Linked DNA regions of Homo sapiens. The protein of the gene in region 2 binds, or shares a complex with, the protein of the main gene of each other region. Each region holds a gene or a part of one and is shown on either strand. Other genes may lie near its edges. The genes, in order: PCNA and DTL. A codon is read from its position in the direction of its gene.

The links.
Region 1: the proteins of DTL (region 2) and PCNA are in contact, whole or in part, in a crystal structure (PDB 6QC0), measured with the Homo sapiens proteins. Residues at the interface, in NP_057532.4 of Homo sapiens: Ser705 (codon at 2,790), Met706 (codon at 2,787), Arg707 (codon at 2,784), Lys708 (codon at 2,781), Ile709 (codon at 2,778), Cys710 (codon at 2,775), Tyr712 (codon at 2,769), Phe713 (codon at 2,766), His714 (codon at 2,763), Arg715 (codon at 2,760); in NP_002583.1 of Homo sapiens: Met40, Ser43, His44, Val45, Ser46, Leu47, Glu124, Gln125, Leu126, Gly127, Ile128, Pro129, Ala208, Tyr211, Asp232, Val233, Pro234, Tyr250, Leu251, Ala252, Pro253, Lys254, Ile255, Glu256.

Annotation. Positions count from the first base shown.
Region 1 is NC_000020.11:5,116,711-5,124,764, forward strand, and holds the start of PCNA (proliferating cell nuclear antigen), read right to left. Parts: upstream 3,249-8,054; 5' UTR 3,089-3,248; coding exon 2,868-3,088; intron 2,157-2,867; coding exon 2,059-2,156; intron 1,968-2,058; coding exon 1,900-1,967; intron 955-1,899; coding exon 760-954; intron 1-759. UniProt on the Homo sapiens protein: Auxiliary protein of DNA polymerase delta and epsilon, is involved in the control of eukaryotic DNA replication by increasing the polymerase's processibility during elongation of the leading strand.
Region 2 is NC_000001.11:212,101,593-212,105,649, reverse strand, and holds the end of DTL (denticleless protein homolog), read right to left. Parts: intron 2,809-4,057; coding exon 2,710-2,808; 3' UTR 637-2,709; downstream 1-636. UniProt on the Homo sapiens protein: Substrate-specific adapter of a DCX (DDB1-CUL4-X-box) E3 ubiquitin-protein ligase complex required for cell cycle control, DNA damage response and translesion DNA synthesis.

The DNA.
Region 1 (8,054 bases), on a different chromosome or scaffold from region 2:
GGCATGATCTGGGCTCACTGCAACCTCCGCCTCCTCGGTTCAAGTCATTCTCCCATCTCAGCATTCCAAGTAGCTGGGATTACAGGTGTGCGCCACCACACCCGGCTAATTTTTATATTTTTAGTAGAGATGGGGTTTTGCCATGTTCTTTCTATTTTGGTTAAACAAGGGCTCTCTAGGTACTCTCAAAGTTGCATGGAGTCTGCTTTCTAGCCTTAGTGAGAAGTCTCCTTCCTGTTTAACCTTTGATTCCTACAGCCTGTGACTTTGGCTAAATTGTCACTTAAGGTTGCTCAGCCTGCTTCTCCACCTTTAAAATGGGCTACCAATTGGACCCACAACATGTAAGCTAATATTAGGATTACATAAGTGCTCCAAACAGGTAGACTTTTACTCCTAACCATATCCTTCTATTGAGCTGCTGTCCTATGCTCAATTATTTGGTAAGAGAGTAAGTATCTCCAGAAAGCTAAAGGTTATACGCCTAACTTCCCAATCCTACCCTTAAGAGCCGGTGTGGACTTGATCCATAAACCACTGTTCTGTGGTATGTACACGTGCTGAATTTGTATTCCCTTCTTGCAAATATAATTCTAAATTGGATGACACTTATAAATCATTCGCAGATTTCAACAGTATCTCAATTTTCAGAAATTACTTGGGATCCAATTCTGTCTACTTTTAATTTTAGCAATTAACCTAATAAGCAGTATTATAATTCTCTTCAAACTATTTTCTTTTTACTTAAAAACTACTTACAGCTTCCTCCTCTTTATCGACATTACTTGTCTGTGACAATTTAATGTTTCCATTTCCAAGTTCTCCACTTGCAGAAAATTTCACTCCGTCTTTTGCACAGGAAATTACAACAGCATCTCCAATATGGCTGAGATCTCGGCATATACGTGCAAATTCACCAGAAGGCATCTTTACTACACAGCTGTACTCCTGTTCCTATTAAGAACAAAAATTTTCCAAAAGTTAATTGTTAGAAATTTAATGATTTGGCACCCTCACTTTCTTAAAAGGCAACACCTAAACAACTCAGAATCAATATTTTCTGATTACTTTAAAATATGACTTGCGTAATTTCTTAACAAACTCCACTCAAAAAAATAAATGGCTATTAAATGCACCATCCAGGGAACAAGAGCCTCCTCCTCCTCATCCTCCAGGGATAAAGTAAGAGAACATTAGAGTATGGCACAGAAATCATGATGGCGCAAGCAGGCCTAACTACTTTCTAAAAGAAAGCAAGAGAATATATTAGGCATTTTCAACATTCAAACATTTCTTCTCTCCTTTGGTGTTTATAAACCTAACCTGGATAAATTTCTTCCAAGTCAGCTTTAAAATCCACTTAATAAAAAGCAAGCATTCTAGAAGGAAACAAATTTTAAAAGAGGTTCATGGAAGTTAATGCAAATAGACAACTGGCAGTAAACAATAAATTTAACCTGTGAGTTTTAGACTTGTGGTGAACAACTATCCAAATACTAAAATCTCTCTTTGAAACATGCACCAGTAGATATATTTCTAGAAAAAGTTGTTATGAAGTAGGCTTAAATTATATTAACATATCTTGACGGAGGAGGATCACTTGAGGCCAGGAGTTCCAGACCAGCCTGGGCAAGACTGCCCCCACGCCCACACACAAAAATGAAAAAATTAGCCAGGTGTGGTGGGACAGGCCCGTAGTCCTTCCTAGCCACTTAGGAGACTAAGGCAAGAGGACTGCTTGAGCCCAGGAATCCCAGGTTAGAGAGAGCTATATGGCACTACTGCACTCCAGCCTGGGCAACAGAGCCAAGACCCTGTCTGTAAAAATAAACAAACATTCTATGACATAACTATCGTGCCTGTGTACAGCACTCTCTACAATGAGAAACTGATACTCACTGGAATTCCAAGTTGTTCAACATCTAAATCCATCAACTTCATTTCATAGTCTGAAACTTTCTCCTGGTCTACCAAAAGAAAGCAGATGCTTTTGAGAAATACTGACACAGAGTTTTGATTTTCTGTAGCTTCGTGACTCGGTAAAAAGGTACGACTTACTTGGTGCTTCAAATACTAGCGCCAAGGTATCCGCGTTATCTTCGGCCCTTAGTGTAATGATATCTTCATTGCCGGCGCATTTTAGTATTTTGGACATACTAGAAGACAGGAGACACATGCTTTAAAATCAACGCCGTCTGCTGAAGGGCTGTATTTCGAACGCGGTTAGAAGGGGTTACCACTCTCACCCATCAGGCCGTCTCAGAACTGGTGGAGGGTAAGCGGACTGCTGGAGGATGCCATTATTAATGCAGACGTTTTGGGACGCATCTGGCAGTATTTATACTAAAATACCACCAGCAGTGTCCCTTCTGGATAGAAACAATCTCCTGCCACTAAGTAGGATGACAGGCTGCCACATTTCTCGCAAGGGCATTATAAAGCATTTAAAGTCAACCGCGACTGAGCCGGGAGGATCGCTTGAGCCCAGAAGTTGGAGACCAGCCCGGGCAACACACCGAGACCGTCTCAGAAACAAGAAAGCCACAGCTAAAGCGTCCATTCAAGGCCAACAGGATTTAGTGAGCAAAGAGCCCTGGAACAGTGTTCCTGGCACTGCGGAAAAACCCTTGATTTTCCCGCCACCACCCGCTTTGTGACTTTGGCGCGAAAAAGCAGGTTCGCGCAGCAGCCAGCGCGGGCTTTTCCGAACCGCGCGCTCAGCTGGGCCCCACCCCACTGCGTGGCAGGCCAATGAGAAGGCGCGGATGGCCCACGCCAGCCAATGAGGGCTAGGCTCGAAAGCGCTCCCGCCAAGCACCGGAGGTGCAGGCGGGCCGGGGCCGGCTTCCCGGGGCCGCGAGGCTCACCTGGTGAGGTTCACGCCCATGGCCAGGTTGCGGTCGCAGCGGTAGGTGTCGAAGCCCTCAGACCGCAGGGTGAGCTGCACCAAAGAGACGTGGGACGAGTCCATGCTCTGCAGGTTTACACCGCTGGAGCTAATATCCCAGCAGGCCTCGTTGATGAGGTCCTTGAGTGCCTCCAACACCTTCTTGAGGATGGAGCCCTGGACCAGGCGCGCCTCGAACATGGTGGCGGAGTGGCAACAACGCCGCTACAGGCAGGCGGGAAGGAGGAAAGTCTAGCTGGTTTCGGCTTCAGGAGCCTCAGAGCGAGCGGGCGAACGTCGCGACGACCGGCTGAGACCTAGAAAGACAACGACCACTCTGCTACGCCTGCAACCGTTTAATGCCGCCGCGTCCGCAAGCGCGCGCTCTCACCCTGCGCCGCGTTGCGACGTCACCACGCTGTCCAGCCCACGGCCTTGCGGGGAAGACTTTAGGGCCAATCGTGTCCATGCTCCCCGCGAGGCCCGCCCCCTAGAGCATACATTGGAGGAAGCGGGCGCAGGGCGGGGCAGCGTCGCGCAGGTCTCCCCGCCTCTTTGACTCCTGAACCCGGCCGCAGAACAAGTCCGGGCATATGTGGAGATCGGGTCCCGGTCCCGGCTCGTCAAGCCCCAGCTTTATGGTGGCTCCTCAGCCTCCCACTACGTGGGTAGAAAGTTTCCAGCCACGAAAGTGAAAGTGAAATGCAAATCAAGCCTACCGGGAGGAAAAGCCTCCTTGCAGCCTGAAGAGAGTACAGCTGCTGCAAATATGCACTTTATTTTTCAATTACAGAATTGATGCGCTCGTAGGTGTCACAAGATAAAGAGGTGAATTGTTCTGTTAAACTTAGCTCCCTATCATCCTCTTAACATTCCCCCGCCAGCTCTTATAATCACTCAATCGTTCATTGTATAAAGCTTTTAAAGCTTTTTTAAAAGTTCGAATACACTTTTTTTTTTTCAAAAATGCACTCATTCCGTAAACACTTGGAAAAGTACTTAATAAAGTACATTTAATTTTATGCCACGTACATCTTTTATCATATCAGTACCTCTTTAAAACATAGCATCACATGTATATAACATAATTTATCAATCTCCTGTTGTTTAACTACAAACACCTTTGAGCACTTAGGCAATTTTGGTGATATCAACTCCTTGAAGTAATACAGCTGAGTCAAAGAGCGTACACATTTAATATTTTTTCTTTTCTTTTCCTTTCTTTTTGAGATGGAGTCCTGCTCTGTCATCCAGGCTGGAGTACAGTGGCGCGATCTCAGCTCATTGCAACCTCCGCCTCCCAGGTTCAAGTGAGTCTCCTGCCTCAGCCTCCCGAGTATCTGGGATTACAGGTGCCTACCACCACCCCCGGCTAATTTTTGTATTATTATTATTATTTTTTTTTAGTAGAGACGGGGTTTCACCATGTTGGCCAGGCTGGTCTTGAACACCTGACCTGAGGTGATCCACCTGCCTCGGCCTCTCAAAGTGCTGGGATTACAGGCGTGAGCCACCACGCCCAGCCAGAAATTTTCAATTGTTACAGGATGGACAGGATTTGTTGTTTCTCTCTTGCTTTCTTCACACCACTTCTCTTTAGTTACTTTTAATACCTTGGTCAGCAGAATTCTTTAGTTTTTCTACCATGTATCTAGGTATGGAGTTAGTTTTATTTGTCTTGTTGAGGGAACTGAAGATTCATTTCAAGTCTGACATATTCTCAATCATTATGGCTTCAAATATCTCCTCTCCTTAGTCTATTCTTTATCTCTGGAATGCCTTTCTTTCCTTTTTTTTTTTTTTTTTTTTTTCCTAGTTCAGCTGTGACTCCATACAAGGTTCTAAGATGAGTTTCACAGTCTCTTCCCTGGATTTTGTGGAGACTTAACTTTACCCTTCTGTATCAGCCTCTTAAAGCACTGGGTCAGCCTTAAAAGGGAACAGGAAAGGGCATTTCTATTATAAGATGCCTTCAATTGTAATATGTACCATTATTTTATGTAGCACAAGCAAGAAAACTGTCAAACTTTTTTTTTTATTATTTTCTAGAGAGGGGAGTCTCCCTTTGACACCCAGGCTGGAGTGCAGTGGCAAGATGACTACTCACTGCCACCTCCAACTTCTAGGCTCGAGAGATCCTCTTGCCACCTCCCAAATAGCTGGGACTACAGGGGTGCACCACTGTACCTGGCTAATTTTTAAATGTTTTTGTAGAGAGAAGGTCCCACTATGTCGCTCTGGCTGGTCTCCAACTCCTGGGCTCAAGCAATCTTCCCAATCGGTCTCCCAAAGTGTGAGATTACAGGCATGAGCCACTGTGCCCAGCCTCAAACTGTTACACAATGCTTTATCACTTAGAATTTCTTTTTTTTTTTCTTTTTCTTTTTCTTTTTTTTTTTTCTGAGACAGAGTCTCACTCTATCACCCAGGCTGGAGTGCAGTGGTGTGATCTTGGCTAACCGCAATCTCCGCCTCCTGGGTTCAAGCAATTCTCATGCCTCAGCCTCCTGAATAGCTAGGATTACAGGCATGCGCCATCACACCTGGCTAATTTTTGTATTTTTAGTAGAGACGGGGTTTTGCCATGTTGGCCAGGTTGGTCTTGAACTCCTGACCTCATGTGATCTGCCTGCCTTGGCCTCCCAAAGTGCTGGGATTACAGGCATGAGCCACCGCGCCCGGGTCTATTTTGTTTTAAAAGAACTTTTAGACTTTAAAAACATTCTTATTATATATTACTCTTGTGCAAACATGAAAAAATTTAAGCTACATTGGTTAAGGCATTCCTACTGTTTCTCCACTCAGTTAGTTGCTGATTCTGCTGTTTTTCTGTATAATATCCTACTCTGTGTTGTCAAGGGTATTGATGATGCAGTATTTTTCAATAGTGCTATTCTATTGTCTCTGGAATTTCTTGCAAGCCTCTGCTACTCATTTGTAAGTTTTGATGTTGGCACTTTCTTGCTTTATGTGTGATGGACTACCCATTTGCATACATCTCAATATCAAAACATAATACAGCATCATCTGTTTGTGGTTCTTTTCCTTTCTTGGGTCCGTTAAAATCTCAGTTCCTTTGCAAAATGTGGAATGTGTTCCTTCCTCCAGTGAGGAACATTTGCTTCACTAAAAACAAATGCATATGCTCCACTACTCTGTTTCAGTTCTGTCTGCTTACATAATAACATTTTGGTTTAATGCCAAATTACATGTAATAGATTTGAAGACATTTTAAATGACAAACTCTATCCATGGGGGATCCACCATGTACATCAATCTGTTTATTTCTGCTCTATTACAGAAGTGATGTCCTCCTAAAAGTGTCAAATGATAAAGAGGTGTACAGTTACGTAAATTTTATGTTAAACTGAAATGAGGACATAAACATGCCTATGACTGTGGTCAGAGAAGGCCTCTCTGAGGAGGTAGCATCTTATCAGAGAAGACAGCTGCTTGGAGAGTTGGAAAAAAGCATTCTAGGCTGAGAGAATAGCATGATTATAAAGGTCAGCATACTTGGAATATATTCAGACAAGTTTGATGTAGAACTCAGACTGATGTGTCTGAAGCAAGAGTGGTGCAAGGTGAGGTTGCAGAGAGGCTGGGGTGAGCTCTTGCAGGACTTTGTAGGCTCTCTAAAAGTGCAAGGGAATGTGGTCAACAGCAGATCTTTGATGTGATCCAATTTACATTTTAAGTGGCTACTCTAACATCTAGTAAAGGTACTATTGGATCAGTGGGAGAAAGAATGAAGTAAATTTTGATCAGATAATTGGTTAAACTATTAGAAAAGAATAAAAGCTGTAGACTTTTCTGGATGGGCGCAGTGGCTCATGCCTGTAATCCCAGAACTTTGGGAGGCTGAGGTAGGTGGATCATCTGAGGTCAGGAGTTCGAGACCAGCCAGGCCAACATGGTGAAACCCCGTCTCTACTAAAAATACAAAAATTAGCTGGGCGTGGTGGTGCACACCTGTAATTCCAGATACTAGGGAGGCTGACGCAGGAGAATTGCTTGAACCCGGGAGGCAGAGGTTGCAGTGAACCAAGATTGCGCCACTGTACTCCAGCCTGGGTGACAGAGCAAACCTCCATCTCAAAAAAAAAAAAAAAGACTTTTCCTAATAATTATTCACTAAATTCTAGATAAAGAATTCAAATTCAAATCTTGACCCAATAAGAAATGGAAAAATATTTTGGTAAATATTTATGAGATCTTCCTATGGGCTTCCAAACATAAGAAAAAAACCCATAAAACATAATGAATAACCATACAAGTTTTAAGACTTCAGTATGCCTCAAAGGATTATATTGGTTAGTATAGTTTAGGTTTCAGTGACAGAGAACTCAACTTGAATGGATTAAGAGAAATAGAAAATTTATTCATCTAAACAAAAAGCCAGAGGTATCTGGCCTCCACTGTCCAGTCCTAGTCTTCATAAACGTGAAGTTTGTTAGCCACATTAATAAGCAAAGAAATGTAAATTCAATGGAGACAGAATTTTAACCTACCAAATTAATAAAAATCATGTTAACACCTGGTGTGTTAGGAAGGATTCAAGGAAGTAGGCACTTAAATACATTGCAAGTGGGAGTATACATTGGTATAATTTTTCTGGTGGAAACTTAGAAATGTGTATCAAAAGCCTTAGAATTTTACTTATTCTTTGACACAGAAATTCGATCTCTAGGGTTTTTTCCTACAGAAGAAATCAGGGGCATTTACCAAGATCAAGCATGCTTAAGAATGTTTCTTGAGCCAGGTGCAGTGGCTGATGCCTGTAATCCCAGCACTTTGGGAGGCCCAGGTGGGCGGATCACCTGAGGTCAAGAATTCAAAACCAGCCTGACCTAAAACCCCTGTCTCTACTAAAAATACAAAAATTAGCCAGCTGTGGTGGCGGGCGCCTGTAGTCCCAGCTACTCGGGAGGCTGAGACAGGAGAATTGCTTGAACCTGGGAGGCGGAGGTTGCAGTGAGCCGAGATCACACCATTGCACTCCAGCCTGAGCAACAAGAGGGAAACTGTCTAAAAAAAAAAAACAAAAAACAAACAAAAAGAAAACAAAAAACGAAAAGAGAGAGAGAGAAGGGCTCTAAAGCTGGCCTAAAGCCCTATTAGCATCACTTCCACCAGACCCCTGTTCGTCACACAGTACTGACTTCAG
Region 2 (4,057 bases):
GAATTGCCATAGGGAGGAAATTAACTCAGTTTTTCTAGTACAATGTTTTCACTCAGTCTGTCTTCTGACACACATTTGTAAAATGTTGCCCACACTATCTTAGTTGTGGAATTTATTTTTCTCTGTTAGACTACTTGGCCTTTGCTTTAAGAGCAATGTAAAAGGAACTAGGGACTAGGAAAAGCAGAAAAACAGACTTAAGAGCAGTAGTGTGTTGGCTATGACAGGCTCTCAAAAAGCATTTGTTGAACCCACACACTACCTATGTTATGAACATGGCCATAGGCTAATTTCAAGATGGGAGTTAAAGCTGTTTTAAGCTGTTAGGGCTGGGGATGGGGATAATGGGCTGACCCTCAACACAAGAGTAGCTACACATGGTCTTGATCCAACATCAGTTAAATGTGCAGTCCAGATGAAGAGACATTTGAAGACACTAATCAGTCATCCTCACAAAATTTAATTAAGGGCCCGTGTTGAAACAGCCAAAAGCAAACTCTAATACGGGATCCTAGCAATAGTGCTTGGAATGTATTCAAATGGAAAAGTTTGTGCTGGAAATACTTGTTTAGAAAAAGAACTACATCACTCCACCCTGCTTTATCAAGTAATCCAAGCCATCTTAAATGCTCAAAGTCTGATCCAAGCAAGATGTTTTTTATTAAAAGCTCTTTCAGCTTGAAATAGATTATAACTTTGGGAATAAACATTTTAATGAACAAGTAGAAGGGATTCTTGACTACTATAGTTCTTTTTTGTAGACTGCTTCTAGGTAATGCAAAAAGCTCAGAAAAGGACATCAGATAAGGTAAAAGGCTTTATTATTCAGGATCAGCTCAAAGTCTGACATGGACACAGGCAGGGATAATTATCTCATTACAGTTGACCTTTGGCACCCATTTAAAAGTACTAGCTTTCCAAGTGAGACATGTTATACCCAGTAGACTCGGTATAATTTCTGACAGCCAAATGTATCCCAATTTCACTCAGTAGGGCTGCCAGGAGATGGGTAGGGATACAAACAAAATCATCTACTTTATCAATCTTTTTTTTTTCATGGATTTTTTTCCCCCATTGGCTTTCAAAGCAAGTGAGATAAACAGCGTTACTGGCAGATATTGGTCATAAATAACATCTTCCCAAAGCCCAACAGTCAAAAAACAAACACCAAATATAAGCAGATTAGGCAGATTTCCTAAATATTCAGTTAAGGCTATGGTGTGCTTGGTTTTGACCAGAGCAATTCTATGGCTTCCTTTTATTTTTCTCCCTGGATAAAACTATGCTTACTTGATCCATGCAATTTCAGTTGTTACAGCTTTAACTTATAAGATCAAAGGAATTAAAAAGTTGTCAGAATAGATTTTCAAATAATGACAAAAACTGACATAAAGTCTACACAGTCCTCAGGGATATGGATAAAACAAATGAAGTTTCATGACTGGAAGGGGGCTCCCTTCTAAGTAAATAGTACATAGAAAGTATGTAAAGCCTCTTTCCATGAGGTTACAAAGGTGAAAAATATAAAACAATGGTTCAAGATCACTGATACATAATTGTTGAATAAGGGGAGGGATGTTTAAGATATTTTGCACATTATTAACTTAGAGTCAGTCTATACACTCTCTGTATTAAATATCTAGAGAAAATTCTATTACTTTTTGGCTCAGGGCTATCTATACTAAAAGGCTATTGCTTTTTATGTACATGAAAAGAAACTCAAGATTTATGTTTCTGGTTCTGGATTTTCAGTTAAGAGCTATATTCTGTTACAAAAATATCAATAAGAAATCATCACTTTTTTCTTAAAATCTGATGACTTATTTTTTTTAAAACATTGCAGCCCCTAAAGAACTGATGACTGCACCTGAATTCAAACCCCAAATTGATTTCATAAAACATCTTCCTCTAGTAAATGGCAAAAATCATAACCTCCTGTAGAAAGTGATGTTGGGTTGGCTGACATAGCAGATTGCTTGGTGAAAACATGGGGACCTGAAATCTCATACGGGAGATATATTTGAGAGAAAAAAGACAAACACAGCTTTCTGTTGTTGTTCTCCTAGTTTCTCCGAAGAGTTGACATTTATCACTGCATTTAAAATAAAGATGACTTTAACTCAAGAGACTGCATTTTAACACTGAACTGATATAAATGTACTTATCTGAGCATCACATTTTTACACATACTTAAAAAAAACCCCACAAAAGCATAGTGAAAAGATTATGTATTTCAAATAAAATTATACATGTTGGAGGCAGAACAGAACCAGGGGTCTTCAGCAGAGGATTTCTCAGTCAGCCTTCACAGGCCTCATGCTGTGGCTGGCAGATACTTTCCACTGAGCATAGAAAGTTTCAGGATAACAAGAAACTTGTTTTTTGCCTCCATGAACTGGGATGTCATTATTATAGAGAAGATGAATAATTTAAAAAGTGAAGACTATTCATTCAAAATGCTAGAGTGACAAATTTACTTTATGAAATTTAAACACAGCATTCATCCTCGGGAAGCTGCATATACATTATGGTAGTAGAACCAGATTAGGTACATTTCAGCGTTGAAAAGATTTTGTCTAAAAATGAAAAGGCAGCTTTCTTAAAGACCAGAGTTATAGAGTCACTCTTGTATTTTTCATCTTGTTTTAGTGGACCAAAGCTCAGCTTGTTTTAGTGGACCAAAGCTCAGTAACTCACTCAGATTAGAATCTATAATTCTGTTGAGTGTTCAGGACCACAGAAGTCCTCCTGGGACTTTCTATGGAAGTATGTGCAGATTTTCCTCATGGAGCTGGGCGTGATGGTGACCTAGAAGAAGAAAGTTTAGATTTCAGAGATTTCCTTGAAGTTCAACTGTTACTAAGTTATTACTAAGGCATACCTTAAATTAGGCTGCCAGAAATTTCATTGTTTAGCCTGCTTTCAGCTCCAAATACTTTCAATGGCAATGTCTCTTTTGGCTGATTTGTACTGACTATAGTAAAAACTTAACAGATGATATGTAGGGAAAGAAGGCATAGACTTCTTATGTGAATAGAAAACATTTACTAGCTAAGTCTCCTAATAAGAAACAAATAAGTTACAATTACTATCCTTTTTGAAATAAATGAATAAATCAGCCCCCCCAATTTATAAACAAGATAGGTATTCAAATGGAAGATGTTACTCTCTTCTGAAGGTTGACATTATCATCATATAAAGGTAAAAAATTTTTAAGAAATGTTAGCTTCAAATAAATTACAAGACCAGCACACTGTTTCTACTTTTTAAAGATTTTAAGATTTATGTATCAGTGAAAATAGTTTTTCATTGAAACTACTTTTCTGCTAACACATAGCTGAGACCAGCTCCCTTGAAAAAAAAAATAGAAATTTTGGCTAGGGATAAAGAGCAGTCATAATTTTGAGAGAAGGAAAGATTCCTTATAACTGTCTTTTTTCTCCACTTTCTACAGCAAGGTCTTGATTGCAGTTTGTGTACTAAGTTGTCTTTAAAATCTATCAGTTTATTTTTCTAAAATTATGGGATAGGTCTTCATGAGAGCAGGTCGGGGTTATGAACACTTTTTAAACTAAAACTGGCCTAAGGTTGGTTATCTAGCTTCTGCCCTTTAAAATGGCAGATGATGCTGATCATGATTCTGGATTCTATTTCAATCATCCCGCCACCACAAGAGCTACTGTGAAGTACAGTGGAAACTTCCTTAACCCATCTCCCCTTCACATGCAAACAACAGAAGCTTTTTATTCTCTCTGACTGGTGCCCATAGCTCACCCAATGCACTCAGCTACTTCTGCCTCCACCACTGTAATGAATCTTGTTTTTCAAGGTTCACAAACCTATTTCTGCCATCAATCACTGATGACTGATATTATCTAATTTAAATATTAAGTCAGTCAATGAAATGAGTCCTAAAAAGATAAGTGACACTACACTGAATGTTAAAAAGAATAGATATAGGTGTCAAAAGTATTACTGTGGTGTGGCAAAATGATTATAAAAGATTGTGGAGAAGTCATAAAAATCTAGAAAGATTTTGCACTCAAATTGTTTTGTA